Regions from separate parts of the Homo sapiens genome. Here regions 1 and 3 are each reported to be linked to region 2. Evidence: microRNA targets listed by miRTarBase, many of them from high-throughput screens and not tested one by one. Region 2 holds a microRNA gene; each other region holds the end of a gene's coding sequence.
What was found. The annotated mature microRNA hsa-miR-411-5p reads UAGUAGACCGUAUAGCGUACG and lies in region 2 at 2,132-2,152, opposite strand. An mRNA with a match to its seed (bases 2 to 7 or 8) in the 3' UTR can be bound and repressed. Matches are read on the target gene's strand: a 7mer-m8 pairs with bases 2 to 8, a 7mer-A1 pairs with bases 2 to 7 and ends in A, and an 8mer does both.

Region 1 (4,000 bases), not on the chromosome of region 2:
CTCCCCGGCCACCCAACGCTCCAGGCCAGATTCCAGGGTGGGGACAGTGGTTACCGTAGTCCTTAGGGAGGGGGGCAGGTGCCGAGGGGTGCACAACAGGCTTCTGCCGGCGCTCCTGGGTGGGGCTGGGGGCCTCGGGGACGGGTTCATCCTCCTCCTCCTCTTCTTCCTCCTCTCCTCGGGGTGGCGGGGCCATCGGGGCAGGATCTGTCTTAGTCATGGTCCTCGGTGGCCCTCGGGGGGCGGGTGCAGAGTTGGGGGCAGCCTTCAGGCAAATCCTGGAGGCAGAGGTCAGCTGGAGAGGGTGCCCGGCAGGCTCCAGGGTCCAAGCCCCTAGGAGCTTCCAGGGCCCCGGGTGGCCTCCGCGCAACTGGATCTTGGGCAACCATAGGGACCCCCGTTACCCATAGAGGGCCCCGGTGTGTGCGCCCAGCGCCTGCCACCTCCCCCAGGCCCAGCCCCCCATTCTTCTCCTCCCGCGTCAGGCCCCTCAGTCGCGGCTGCCCCCTCCCCGGGTTTGTTTATCTCGGGATTCAGGATGCTTCGCCCCTCCCCTTCTCCGCGGGCCGCCCCCTCCCCATCTTACCTCGGGCAGACAGCGCTGGGGACCAAAGTGGAGACTGGGGAGACTGTGGGAGCAATGGGGTGTCGGTGTCAGGGGACGTGATGGGGGAGGCAAGGGAGACAGAGAGAAGGGGACGAGGCCCAGACGCCGACAGGGGGTGGGGGCGGAGAGGGAGGGGCGCGACTGCGCATGCGCCTGCTGCCCCCCTACCGGCGGCGGGGGAGGAGGGACCAGGAGGAGGGACCGGGAGGCGCTCGCATTGATGGAGGGGCCAGAGGCGGCGACTGAAAGGGGAGAGCCTCCGGGCACTGGGAGAGGAAGAGATGGCTACGGAAAGGAGCGAGATGAGCAGATACAACGGCAAAAGAGAGGGCTGAGAGAGCGGACACAGATCTTCTCCATCCCCTTCCCCCACGCCTGCAAACCAGGCCGGTGAGGGCAGTGGTCTTGGGGCGTGGTGACGATGGGGACCCTCTAGGGGACCCTCTCTCTAGGACCCTAGACCGGACCCCTTCTCCAAGCTCACCATTCATAATGGGTGCCTCAGAGGGGTGATTTCCTAGAGACTCCTATCATGATCATCTCATCCTTACCATCATAATGCGAGGCTCACACACTGGGGCCCAGAGGTTAAGCAGCTTGCCCAAAAGTACATGAGTAGGTGATGGAGCGAACATTTGAAACCAGACAGTCTGTAAAGTCTGATTTTTATTTTTATTATTTCCTAGACAGGGTCTCACTCTGTCACCCAGGCTACTGTGCAGTGTTGTGATCTTGGCTCACTGCAGCGTCAAACTTCTGGGCTCAAGCCATCCTCCCACCTCAACCTCCCGAGTAGCCGAGACCACACGTGCATGCCACCATGTCTGGAGAATTTTTTTTGAGACAGGGTTTTGCCATGTTGCCCAGGCTGGTCTTGAACTCCTGACCTCAAGGGATCCTCCTGCCCCTGCCACCCAAAGCGCTGAGATTACAGGCACGAGTCACCATGCCCAGCTTTGATTCTTAATCACCATGCTACATGCCTGTAGCAGTGTCTGGGAAACAGATCTGCCGATTGACCCCTCCAACTCTCTCAGAACCTGTATCTTCCCCACGGAGGCCTCCTGAAGCCAGCCCAGGGTCCTGGCTCCATTGTCATGGCTTGGCTTCCCACCTGGAGCTGTAGCCTGCTCTGCCTCAAATCATCCCAGCCTGGATGGGGCTGGGTGACAGCCTTGAACACCTCATCCTTCTAATGCACAGGTCCAGTAGCTCCATCTCCAAAAGATTTCCAGGATCTCACTCTCCCCACCGCTACCCTGGGCCCTCATCTTGGTCCATCCTTCTTCTTCTGCCACCAGCACTACGGCAGCAGCCTCTTACCTGCTGTCCCCGTCCTCCTCCAACATGCAGCCACAGGGACCCATGAACACCTGTCACTTTGGAGCCCTCTTTCCCTCAGAGGGGTCTGCCTGCTGCACCTCACTCCAGGTAGAAGCCAAGGCTCTCAGCCATGGCCCACAAGGGCCTATGTGAACCTGCCCCATCATCTCTGCACTCACCTCCTCTCACCCTCTTTTGTTCACTCCACCCCAGCCACACTGGCCTCCTTGCTTCTCCCTACCCCAGGACCTTTGCACTGGCTCTTTTTTTTTTTTTTTTTTGAGATGGCAGTCTCACTGTTCCCCAGGCTGGAGTGGAGTGGCATGATCTCTGCTCACTGCAACCTCTGTCTTCCAGGTTCAAGTGATTCTCCTGCCTCAGCCTCCCGAGTAGCTGGGATTACAGGCCTGTGCCACCACACCCAGCTAATTTTTGTATTTTTAGTAGGGACGGGGTTTCGCCATGTTGGCCAGGCTGGTCTCAAACTCCTGACCTTAGGTTATCTGCCTGCCTCAGCTTCCCAAAGTGCTGGGACGACAGGCGTGAGCCACCGTGCCTGGCCTGCAACGGCTCTTTGTGATGCCCGGAATGCTCTTCCTCCAAATCCCTACGTGGCTCCCTCTCTGCCCTGTTTTAGGATCTTACTTGTTGGTGTCTTTTCACCTTCTCTGCTCTAAAACTGCACCCCTTCCTCCCTTCCCTACTATGGTTTTCTCCATAGCAACACCGCCTCCCAGACCTGACACATCCCAGACAGCAGGCCCTCACTGCAGGGGTTGTTCGTCCTCTGGAACCTGAGCCTGTAGCGCTCCAGGCCAGCCCCTTCTGATCACCCAGGTTTCTGCTAAAACATGGCCTTGGAGGGCCCTCCCCCAGGCCCAAACCAAATTTTTGTTGTCTTTATAGCACTCATCGCTCATGTCTGCAGTGTTCTTGTTTATTTGTTTACTAGTTCATCGTCTACTCAAGTAGAATGAGCACCATGAGGGCAGGGATTTTCTCAGCTGTGTCCACCATGGTATCATGAACTCAGTACCAGGCTTGGCAAAAAGCGTGGGACTCCTTAGAACCAGGTATGATTCTCCCAAACAACCCTTGCTCTGCTCTGAGGCTGTCGTACTGATTTGCAAAGATCTGAGCCGGGGGTGGCAGAAGCCTGGTACCCAGGGGATTGGGGGCTGATGAGAGACTTGGGCCCAGGTCACCCCTAAGGTTCAAGAGATCCCTAGGAGTGGGGTGGTAGAACCCAGGCCCTTGAGGGAGGCACTGCTACTACCCAGGCGTGGGCGGTGGGGCTGGGCCAAGCCCACGTATAATGTCTTTCCTCCTCCATCTTCTATCTTTTGTCCCTCGACATTGTCTGTCTTGATCCTTATGCACTGGGGATCCGAGTGTCCAGGAGCTCCGGCTTGGCATCCACTGTGGCAGGTGCAGGGTCCTGGGCAAGGACCATGGCTATGTCAGGCCCTCCACAGATGATGGTGAAGGTTTGGGATTCCTCAGGTCCAAGGGTCTGGGCTGTTGTCTAAGGCAAAGAAGTGGTAGAGATGGGGAACATTACGAAGCAAGTTGCGGGAGAGACAGACAGATAACGGTGAGGAACAGGGAGGCAAAGGTGGCAGGAGGGCGTGTCAGGAAACAGAGAGAGATGTGGGGAGAGATATGAGGAGACAGGAAAGCAGATGTGAGGGCCAGAGAGACATTCATGGGAAAGGAAAGAAGGGTGGGGAAATGGGAAGAGAAGTGCGGGGGCACAGACGCAGACACGTGGGGGAAAGAGATGTGCAGGCAGACAGACGTACAGACAGGGTCAGAGATATGGGGGAGACAGAAAATATGCAGATAAAGAGAGACACAGGGAGGTGGGGAAACAGGTGGCGGACAGAGATGATGGGCAGAAAGACAATGAATGTTGGGGAGGGAGGAGATTGGGAGGTAGGGATAGATGAGTAGGAGACAGAGATTGAATGACAGGAGGGGAGGCAGAGAGAGGCAGTCAGCTCAGGGGATCTGGCAGGCTCCACAAAGAGCCCCAGGCCCGAGTCTGAGCTCTGTCCCTGCCCCACTGTC
Region 2 (4,260 bases):
TACCAGCCACCGGCAATGTGGCAATGACCACAAACCCACATCCAATGCCACTACCACCTCCAGGATGCCCTGTAAGGGTGGGACCGGTACTGAGTTCTTGGCTGGTGGACCAAATGGCCAATGTAATAAATAAAGGACTGGGTCTGCAGCCAACCACCCGGTGACCTGCACTGCACCCTGGCTACCACTCAGGCCTGGCTCTCAAGTCGGCATGGCCTCCGGGAAGCCCCAGGGCTGGCTGATACTGAGAATGAGTGGACCATGCTACATCTGTCATTCAACAATGCATATGCTTTATGCTCTACCATCTCTCCAAGTACTGTGGAATGGCGCTGAAGCCAGATCAGTGTGTCTCCCACGAAGGTGACTTTGCCTCTCTCTGGGAAGCCCTCTATGACTGAATTTGATATTGAGAAGATGTGGACCATATTACATACGACACAGAGATAGCGCATGTTCTATGGTCAACCATCTTTTCAGGTACCTTGGAGAGGGCTGAGGTCAGAGCCGGTGTCTCTTTCCTCTCACTAGCATCACCTCCAGGAAGCCCTCTGAGGCCTGATGTAGTATTGAGAAGAGGCCACCATGCAATGTCTGCCGCAGATGCAGTGGACGCAGCACAAAGGAGCCCCTCAAGAATGGAGATGATGCTGGAACTAGTGCTATGACTGACACTCGTTCCTGCCTACAGAAAGCCCCCCGAGGTGCACGCTGTTATAGGAAGGTGGACGAAGTAACATGCGTTGTAAGTAAAACATATGAAGCATGGCCAACTTCTACTAAGTACCCCGAGGCAGTACTTGTACCAGAACTGGTGCTTTGTCTCCTAAGCTTAACATAACCTCCCTGGAGACTTTCCAGGCTGAATGGGATACTTCAAAAGAAGTAGACCATGTTACATACGTCATGGGGAAAAGACATGCAGTGTGGCTGAACCCTTTTCAGGTACCGTGAGGTCAGTGAAGAGGCCAGAACCAGTGCTCTGTCCCTGAGGCTGGCAGCTTCTTCAGCAAGTTCTCCAAGCAAGGGTTCTGGGATGGAGATAGGGAAGAAGTGGGCCATGGAGGCACTTCCTCTGTAAACATACACGATGGGGTCGAGCAGCTCTTCATGAGGATCAGTGCTGAGTCCAGAGCTGGGACATCTTCCCCCGAGATGGCTAGACTTGAGATGGAAAAAAGATAGACTGTACACGCATCAGCAAAGACAAAAACGAGTCAGTGCGTCTTCAAGTACCTGGAGTGGCATCATCTCCTGGACCCATATCTGCTCCTACATGGGCGTACTGTCCTGAAGTCATCTGAGGAGGGCTCTGAGGATGAGAGGTGACCTGTTTCACATCCCTCGTTCATGAACATTTGCGGCACCAGCCACCGTTTCTTCAATTACTCCAGAGGGATGTGCCAACGTGGGCAGTAGGACACCTTCCTGGAGGTCATCCTTGTCCTGAGGAAGTCACTGGAGGCTGTGTTTGGCACTGAGGAGAAGACCGCATCACAAGCATTGACAGAGAAAGCACACATCTAAGAGTCTACCATTCCACCAAGTGCCATGGCATGGCGGATGCCGAGACCCGTGGCTCTCCTCTAACTCCAGGCTTTCTCCAGGGAGGTTTGGATGGCTGGGCTGGATACCAAGAAGCGGTTTACCATCCCACATACATATTCAAAATGTATGTGGGACGGTAAACCATTTCTTCAAGTACCGCACGATGGTGGTGGTGGTGGCTGGAAGAAGGCTCATGTCCACGAAGTTGCCTGAGGGCGCTTCTTCTAGGCTGCATTTGACGCTGAGAAGAAGCAGGTCACGGTGTCTACTGAATAAGCGTAGCGTAGTCAACCACGTCATTGAGCACCATGGAATGGCACTGATTCCGGGAAGAATCAAGGTCTCCTCCCCAGGGATGGCGCGATTTCCCAAGGCAGAACTTGATTTAAGAGGAGCGAGATTATGCCATTTTGCATCATGCAGAAAAACACATGCCATACAGAAAATCATCTCTTCGGGTGTCATGGAGAAGTGGTGGTGGGTCCAACCGTTCCTCCCCGAAGACAGCGTTGTTTCCAGGAGCCTCGGGGATGGATTTGATACTGAGGGTTAGTGGACCGTGTTACATACGTCACAGATAAAGCGTACGCTATACGGTCTACTATCTCTCCAAGTACCACACAGAGATGCCGAGGACAAAGGCTCAGGACACATCCAGAAAGCCCTCCAAGGCCTTGAGCTGGGTGGAACCAGAAGGGAGGTTGAGCACAGCACATGCATCATGCGACAAGCACACACAGGCCAGGAGTCTCGTCTTCATGGTCGGGGGTTGACATGAATGCTCGAAGCAGTGGCTCATCCCCAAAACTGGCAACTCCTCCAGGAAGCCCTTCGAGGCCGAAAGTCCCACTGAGAAGAAGTGGACGATGATATGGATTTCATCACTCCATAAATACTGATTAAGTGCCTGCTGTGTGCCAGGCGCACTGTGCTGGGTCTGAAGGAGTGGGTAGATGGGAGGGAGGACATGGCACATGGCTAACAGAGCTGGTTAGGGGAGTGGGGAGAAAATCAGAAATACAAAATGGCCCACGTGCAACCAAAGAACATCCATCTAGTTACACTAACCAGGCCAAGGAAACAGTACTGGGCACCTGAGGCCCAGATCTTACCTATTAGTGAGCTCTAGTCTTGGGCATTAAAAAAAAAAAAAAAGTGCCCTAAGGCCATATCTGCCTCAATACCAAGGGCATTTCCAGGAGGTCCTCTTAGGTTGGATTAGATTCTGAGCAGTAACCACCATGCCATCTTCATGAACAAAGCAGGAGTTGTTTTGGTCAACCACCTCCCTAAGGACAGAACCACTGTCTCATTCCCAGACTTGGCACTGCCTCCGGAAAACCCTGAGACTGAATGTAAGATTGATCAGAGGTGGACATTGGTATAAACAGAAAACTTCAACACAGGAAAGCAACTCTTCAATGCCACACAGCGGAATGAAGGATGGACTGGTGGGTCCCCCTGAAGGTAGTATTGGCTCCACGAAGCCCTCCAAAGCTGGCAGGCTACTGGGAAGTGGTAGCCCATCTCACACAAATCCCTCCTTTCGCACAGGCCACATGGCAAATCATCTCTTCCAGAACCACGGCTGAGGCTGGAACCGGTGTCTTGAGCCCAAGTTGCATCACTTCCAGAAAACTCCCCAGAGAGTGCATTTAGTGCCCAGAAGAGCCAGGCCTTGTTGCACAAGTCAGACATCAACCATGAGCCACAGAAATTGCCGTGGAGCAGTGCTGAAGCTAAACCACGTGTTCTCTTCCCTGAAGTTGGCAACACCTCCAGGAAGCCCTCCGAGGATGGATTGGATACTGAGAGTTAGTGGACCATGTTACATAGGTCAGAAATCATAACGCCTACGTTCCATAGTCTACCATCTCTTCAGGAACCACGGAATGGTGCTGACCCCAGAACCAGGGCCTTGCCCCTGAAGTTGGCGTCACTTCCAGAAAGCTTTCTGAGGCTGGATTTGGCATTGGAAGCAGGCACATGGTGAACATAAACAACCCCTCCTCCAATGTGGGGCAGTGGCATTGATGGGGGAAGGGGTGCCTCTACCCTAAGTGGTAATTCCTCCAGGAAGGCCATGTCAACTTGGAAAGACTGCGACAAGGCAAAATGTACAATACTGACCATGCTTTGGCCATTATGTGGTCAACTATCTCTTCATCAAGATAAAGGGCAGTGTTTTGTTCTGCATGGCAAATGGGACACTCCAAGAGCACAGTTCATCATATAAAAGGGGACCCTCAACCTCTAGGTAAAAACTTCCCTAGCTCACCCAAGTTCCGATGGTCCTCGCCATGCTCTAGACCACCTTTGGAGACTCAAACCACAGAGCTGAGTGGGCAGTGCGTTCCTCCAGCTCCTGATTAACCTCTCCACCTCCTTCAGGAGGTCTTCCTTGATTTTCTCCATCCCCTTTCATGGCACAACTATCCCATGTGAATGGAATGCAAAGCAATGATTTGTTAGCCTCCAGGGAAAGGACAAGGGCAGAACCCTCAGCAGCCCTGCAGGACAGCTCGGTTGTCCTCTAAAGTCCTGAACCCCAGTGTAGACGGGGCCCTGCAACTCAGTTGTTGAAGTCCTAACTCCTTAGGAAGTCATTCAAGGCATCATGCTCCCCTGCTCCCTCCAAGTGTGAGCTAGTCTAGTCTAAGAGATTACCCTCCATACCCCGTGCATTGTCCACATGCCTTTGCTGGCACTACT
Region 3 (4,000 bases), not on the chromosome of region 2:
TTCTAAAAAGTGACACCTAGGTTTCCTCAACAGAAAGCTGTGCTTCAATCCCAAATCCCCTTGAGACCAACATGCCTTAAAGGGGGTTTGGGTTTAAAGACCAATGTATCTTTTTTTTTTTTTTTTTTTTTTTTTTTTTTTTTTTTTTTGAGACAGAGTTTCGCTCTCGTTGCCCAGGCTAGAATGCAATGGCGTGATCTCGGCTCACTGCAACCTCTGCCTACTAGGTTCAAGTGATTCTCCTTCCTCAGCCTTCCGAGTAGCTGGGATTACAGGTGCCTGCCACCATGTCCAGCTAATTTTTCTATCTTTAGTAGACATGGGGTTTCAGCATGTTAGTCAGGCTGGTCTTGAACTCCTGATCTCAGGTGATCCACCCATCTCAGCCTCCCAAAGTGCTGGGATTACAGGCGTGAGCCACTGCGCCCAGCCCCAATATGTCTTAAAGGGGGTTTGGGATTAAAGTACAGTTTTCCGCTGAGGAAACCTAAGGTCTTAAAGGGGTTTTGGGATCAAGTGTCCTGTTGAGGAAAACTAGGTGTCACCATGCATTAGTCTTCCCCGCATTACACAAAAGGCAGGTGTGTTCCCAGAAAAATTAAAGATGGTCTTACAAGAAGTACAAATGTGCCAACACCAGGACTTTGGGGACCCTGGTTCTGGCCCTGCCACTTGTTACTCTATTACTTTATTCCACATGTCATCTGTTACTTTGGAAAAACAAACCTGGGAGTAACACCTTACTGTCTGGTTCTCAAGTGGCTAAGTGGCTCTGAGCAAGTTTTAAATCCGGCATCGCAAGTACCCTTTGGAGAGGGATTTAGGGCCTGAGAAAGGCAGACTCCACCGAGTGTCTGTCCATCTGTCCGGACAGCACCATGTGGCTCAGCATGCAGGCCAGGCCGCGTGCCTGGGTTTGACTCCCATCGCCGGCCCCTGCTGTTAGTTCCGGACAGTTCCTTGGTGCCTGTGTGCTGGTTTTCTCGTCTGTAAGATGGGGTCGGACAGGCAGCTGCACATGGTAGGCGCTGTGTGTCGGCTATGAAACCACCAGCCCACCGCGTGCCCTGTTCACATGCCTTACAAATTGAGGGCTGATCTCTAAAATAGCATGATTTGTACACGTTTCTGTGACCAGCGAGCCCTTTCACACATCACTGTGACTGGTCCTCATGGTCACCCTGTGAGGGGGGCAGCATTTTTGCCATCTTACAGACGGGGAGCCCAGCTTGCTCTGAGCCATCCAGCAGTGCTGGCCAAGCCTCCGAGCTTGGCCAAATGCTGGCCCCAGAGGAGACAACCTTCTCCCGCCCCTCACCTCTGAGAACAGAGGGCGGGCCGCTGTGCTCCTCACAACCTGGACTGCCTCATCTTCCCACGGACGAGCTGTCAGGGCTGTGTTTCTCCCAAGATCCCCAGAACAACCAGGGGAAGAGTTCCTGAAGAAATGGGTGTATTTTAGCCACATGGACTCAAACTTGGAAGCAGCATTTGGCATCCCCGGAGAGCACTCAAATGGGGCTGGACCATGCTCGGGGCTCCCTGAGGCTCTGTCCCCACACTTTGGGGCATGACATGACCTGGCTCTGTGCTGCCCTAAGACATGGGTTTAGGAACATGAAATCGTGCAGAGCTGAGCTGTCAGGCCTGAGCAGACACTGCTGGGGGAGAGAGAAAGTTCACATCCCCCCACCAAGCACGGTCTCAGATTAGGTTATTACAAAGGGCGAGGGGGAGGAGGGCATCCCAGGAGTCTAACATCCAACCCGACCTATGCAGAATGACGGGTGACCACGCCCTGACCCAGCCACACACTTGAACCCTGGGACTTCAGTGAGGTAGGTGGTATCAGCCCCATTTCACAGGTGGGCAAACTGAGGCAGAATGAAATGCAATAGCTCGCTTTTAATAACAACATACAAAAGTCTGGAGAAAGCCCCAAAGTAGTCCCCTGTTCCCAGAGCCCAAAGAATAAACAGATGGGAGAACAAGACCCTCCTCTTCCTTTTCCCCCACAGAGAAGATCCCTAAACACATCACCGGAACCCCTCAAATATTCCTGGGAACTTCAAACAAAAAAACATAGCAACAAAGAGACCCAGCTTCCAGTTTATTCCCAGTTGGGTAGGGGACAGGCCTGCTCTCGGGGAGGGTACCGTGCATCCTTGCAGATGGAAACGCCTTCATGCTGGACCAGGCCGAGGGCAGGCCTGGGGCTGGGCAGCTGCTCACACGAACCAATGGGGGTGCCCATGTGAGCCTCTGAGCAACTCCTCTGCCTCAGTGAGCTGGTCTGAGAGATGGGACCAACACACGCCGTCAAAGGAAGTGAGTTCTAGGAAACCAGGGAAGATGAAAAGACACCCCCGCCCCCAGAAGACGGGGTCCCACCTAGAACCTTCCTGGGAGGATGCCAGCCCCACCCCACATCAGACACCCTTTGGCAGATATCCTGTTCTGCCTGGCTACCGAGGCCTCCCGACTACCCTCAGAATCCAAATTCTGCAGGTTCCTCCGTGCGAGGCCCAGCGTGGGATGTCCCAGGTTGGAGGTGTGCGTGTTGGCGGTGTTCTTTGGCTGGAAGCAAAAGGCCGTTCTGGCGGGATCGGGGCCGTCTGCTCAGCTGGAGGCCTTTCTGGAACTGGGCGTGGGTGAGGTATTCCCAGCCCAGGGCAAAGCCATCAAACTTCTCGTGTTCCCATCTCCTATTAGAACAAAGTGGTAAACTGGGGAGGATGAGCTGGGACTGACTCGGGTGCTGAAGTTCATCCGCACGGCATTCCAGAATCTTCCACCGGCTTTCCTCAAGAACATGTGGACAGTCCAATGCACTGAGTGCCCTGGCTGGGTGGTTCCGCCTGCTGCTGGGGGGACGTGAACATAGACCCGCCGCTCTGGCCCCGCTCTGGGCATCAGCTGCTCCTTCCGCTCTCTCTCATGGCCGCTCGGCATCTCTAGTCCTCTTTGGGTGCAGAGGGCTCTCCAGAGATGGGTGGGGGGCGATGGGCGGGGGGCACAGGGCGGAGCAGCGCCAGCAGGGGAGGGAAGAGGCACTTCAGTTTGGGCTGGTGTTCGTGGAGTCGGCCCCGGCCCCGGGAGTCGAGTGGCCTCGCCTGGCTGCGGCTCCAGCACTGGCGTGCCATCGCAGACCCCGGTGGCGGTGGACAGGTAGGCACTTGGCAGCACTCCGAGGGCTGGGCCCGGCCGGGGCTCTGCGCAGGCTCCGCACGCGGCTAGGTCATCAGGATGGGCTTCTGCCGAACTTCCAGGATGTCTAGGGCCGGCAGGAGGGAAGCAGGTGAAACAGTAACCCTCAACAGCGGTGAGTGCTATGGTCACGGCAGTGCCACTTCTGAAGGAAGCCCGCCTCAGCCACTCATGCATCTCCTCTCCAGGCCTCACAGACTGCAGAGGAGACGTGTCTCCACCATCCTCACCCTGCAGACTGGGAAATGGGCTCGCAGCAACGGCACACCCTGCAGGGCCTCAGGTGCAAGCTGGTGTGGGGGCCAGAGCCACTGCCTGTCACAGCTGCTGCAGGCCTGGGTCAGCGAGGTGGCCTGAGAGCCTCCCCTCGCCCGTGAGTAACACACACCTGGGCATCTGTGGCCACTCAAGAGGGGACAGCAGGTGCGCCAGAAAGGTGAACAAAGGGAGGACTTCAGCTCTGGGAAAGCTACGGCTCCACCCAAAGTCTGAGACAAAGAGGCCAAGAGCCCTGCAAAGAAACCCAACCAACCGACAGGACAGGGCGGGATGACTCCGGGTGGCTCACAAGTACCAAGGCCCTGGAGGCAGAGCTGGCTGTGAGAAGGTGCGGCTGCTTCCCCACATCCGCCAGCATTACCTGTTAAAATCCGATGCAGCGGCAACGTGACGTAGGTTAAGTGTGCATAGAGAAGGAAGTTTCCATCTGCTCTGTTCAGCTTCAGCCAGGACCCGACCAGGGACCGTCCTGTGCCCGACAGGGACCGAGACCGCAGGTTGGTTGCATTGTGCA

Region 1: miRTarBase lists THAP8 as a target of hsa-miR-411-5p. The part of its 3' UTR that is shown has no 7-base or 8-base seed match.
Region 3: the mRNA of KIAA0930 is a reported target of hsa-miR-411-5p. Seed matches in the 3' UTR shown: 8mer at 312-319.

What each region holds. Positions count from the first base shown.
Region 1 is chr19:36,032,138-36,036,137 of GRCh38, forward strand. It overlaps THAP8 (THAP domain containing 8), which reads right to left. Exons shown (of 4, transcript NM_152658.3): 4 at 2,847-3,455. The coding sequence ends at 3,303. It overlaps CLIP3 (CAP-Gly domain containing linker protein 3), which reads right to left and starts at 736. Exons shown (of 14, transcript NM_015526.3): 1 at 587-736; 2 at 55-278. The coding sequence starts at 220. The region is part of intron 3 of LOC101927572 (a long non-coding RNA gene); the gene reads left to right. RefSeq lists a silencer at 3,462-3,635.
Region 2 is chr14:101,021,232-101,025,491 of GRCh38, reverse strand. It overlaps MIR411 (microRNA 411), which reads right to left and starts at 2,167; the gene lies at 2,072-2,167. It overlaps LOC124903407 (mucin-2-like), which reads right to left. Exons shown (of 5, transcript XM_047432049.1): 5 at 1-4,260. MIR379 (microRNA 379) reads right to left here and starts at 3,426; the gene lies at 3,360-3,426. It overlaps MIR299 (microRNA 299), which reads right to left and starts at 1,698; the gene lies at 1,636-1,698. It also overlaps MIR380.
Region 3 is chr22:45,193,943-45,197,942 of GRCh38, forward strand. KIAA0930 reads right to left here. Exons shown (of 10, transcript NM_001009880.2): 9 at 3,848-4,000; 10 at 1-3,274. The coding sequence ends at 3,234. Among named protein-coding and RNA genes, the nearest start is that of MIR1249, 5.1 kb to the right of the region's middle.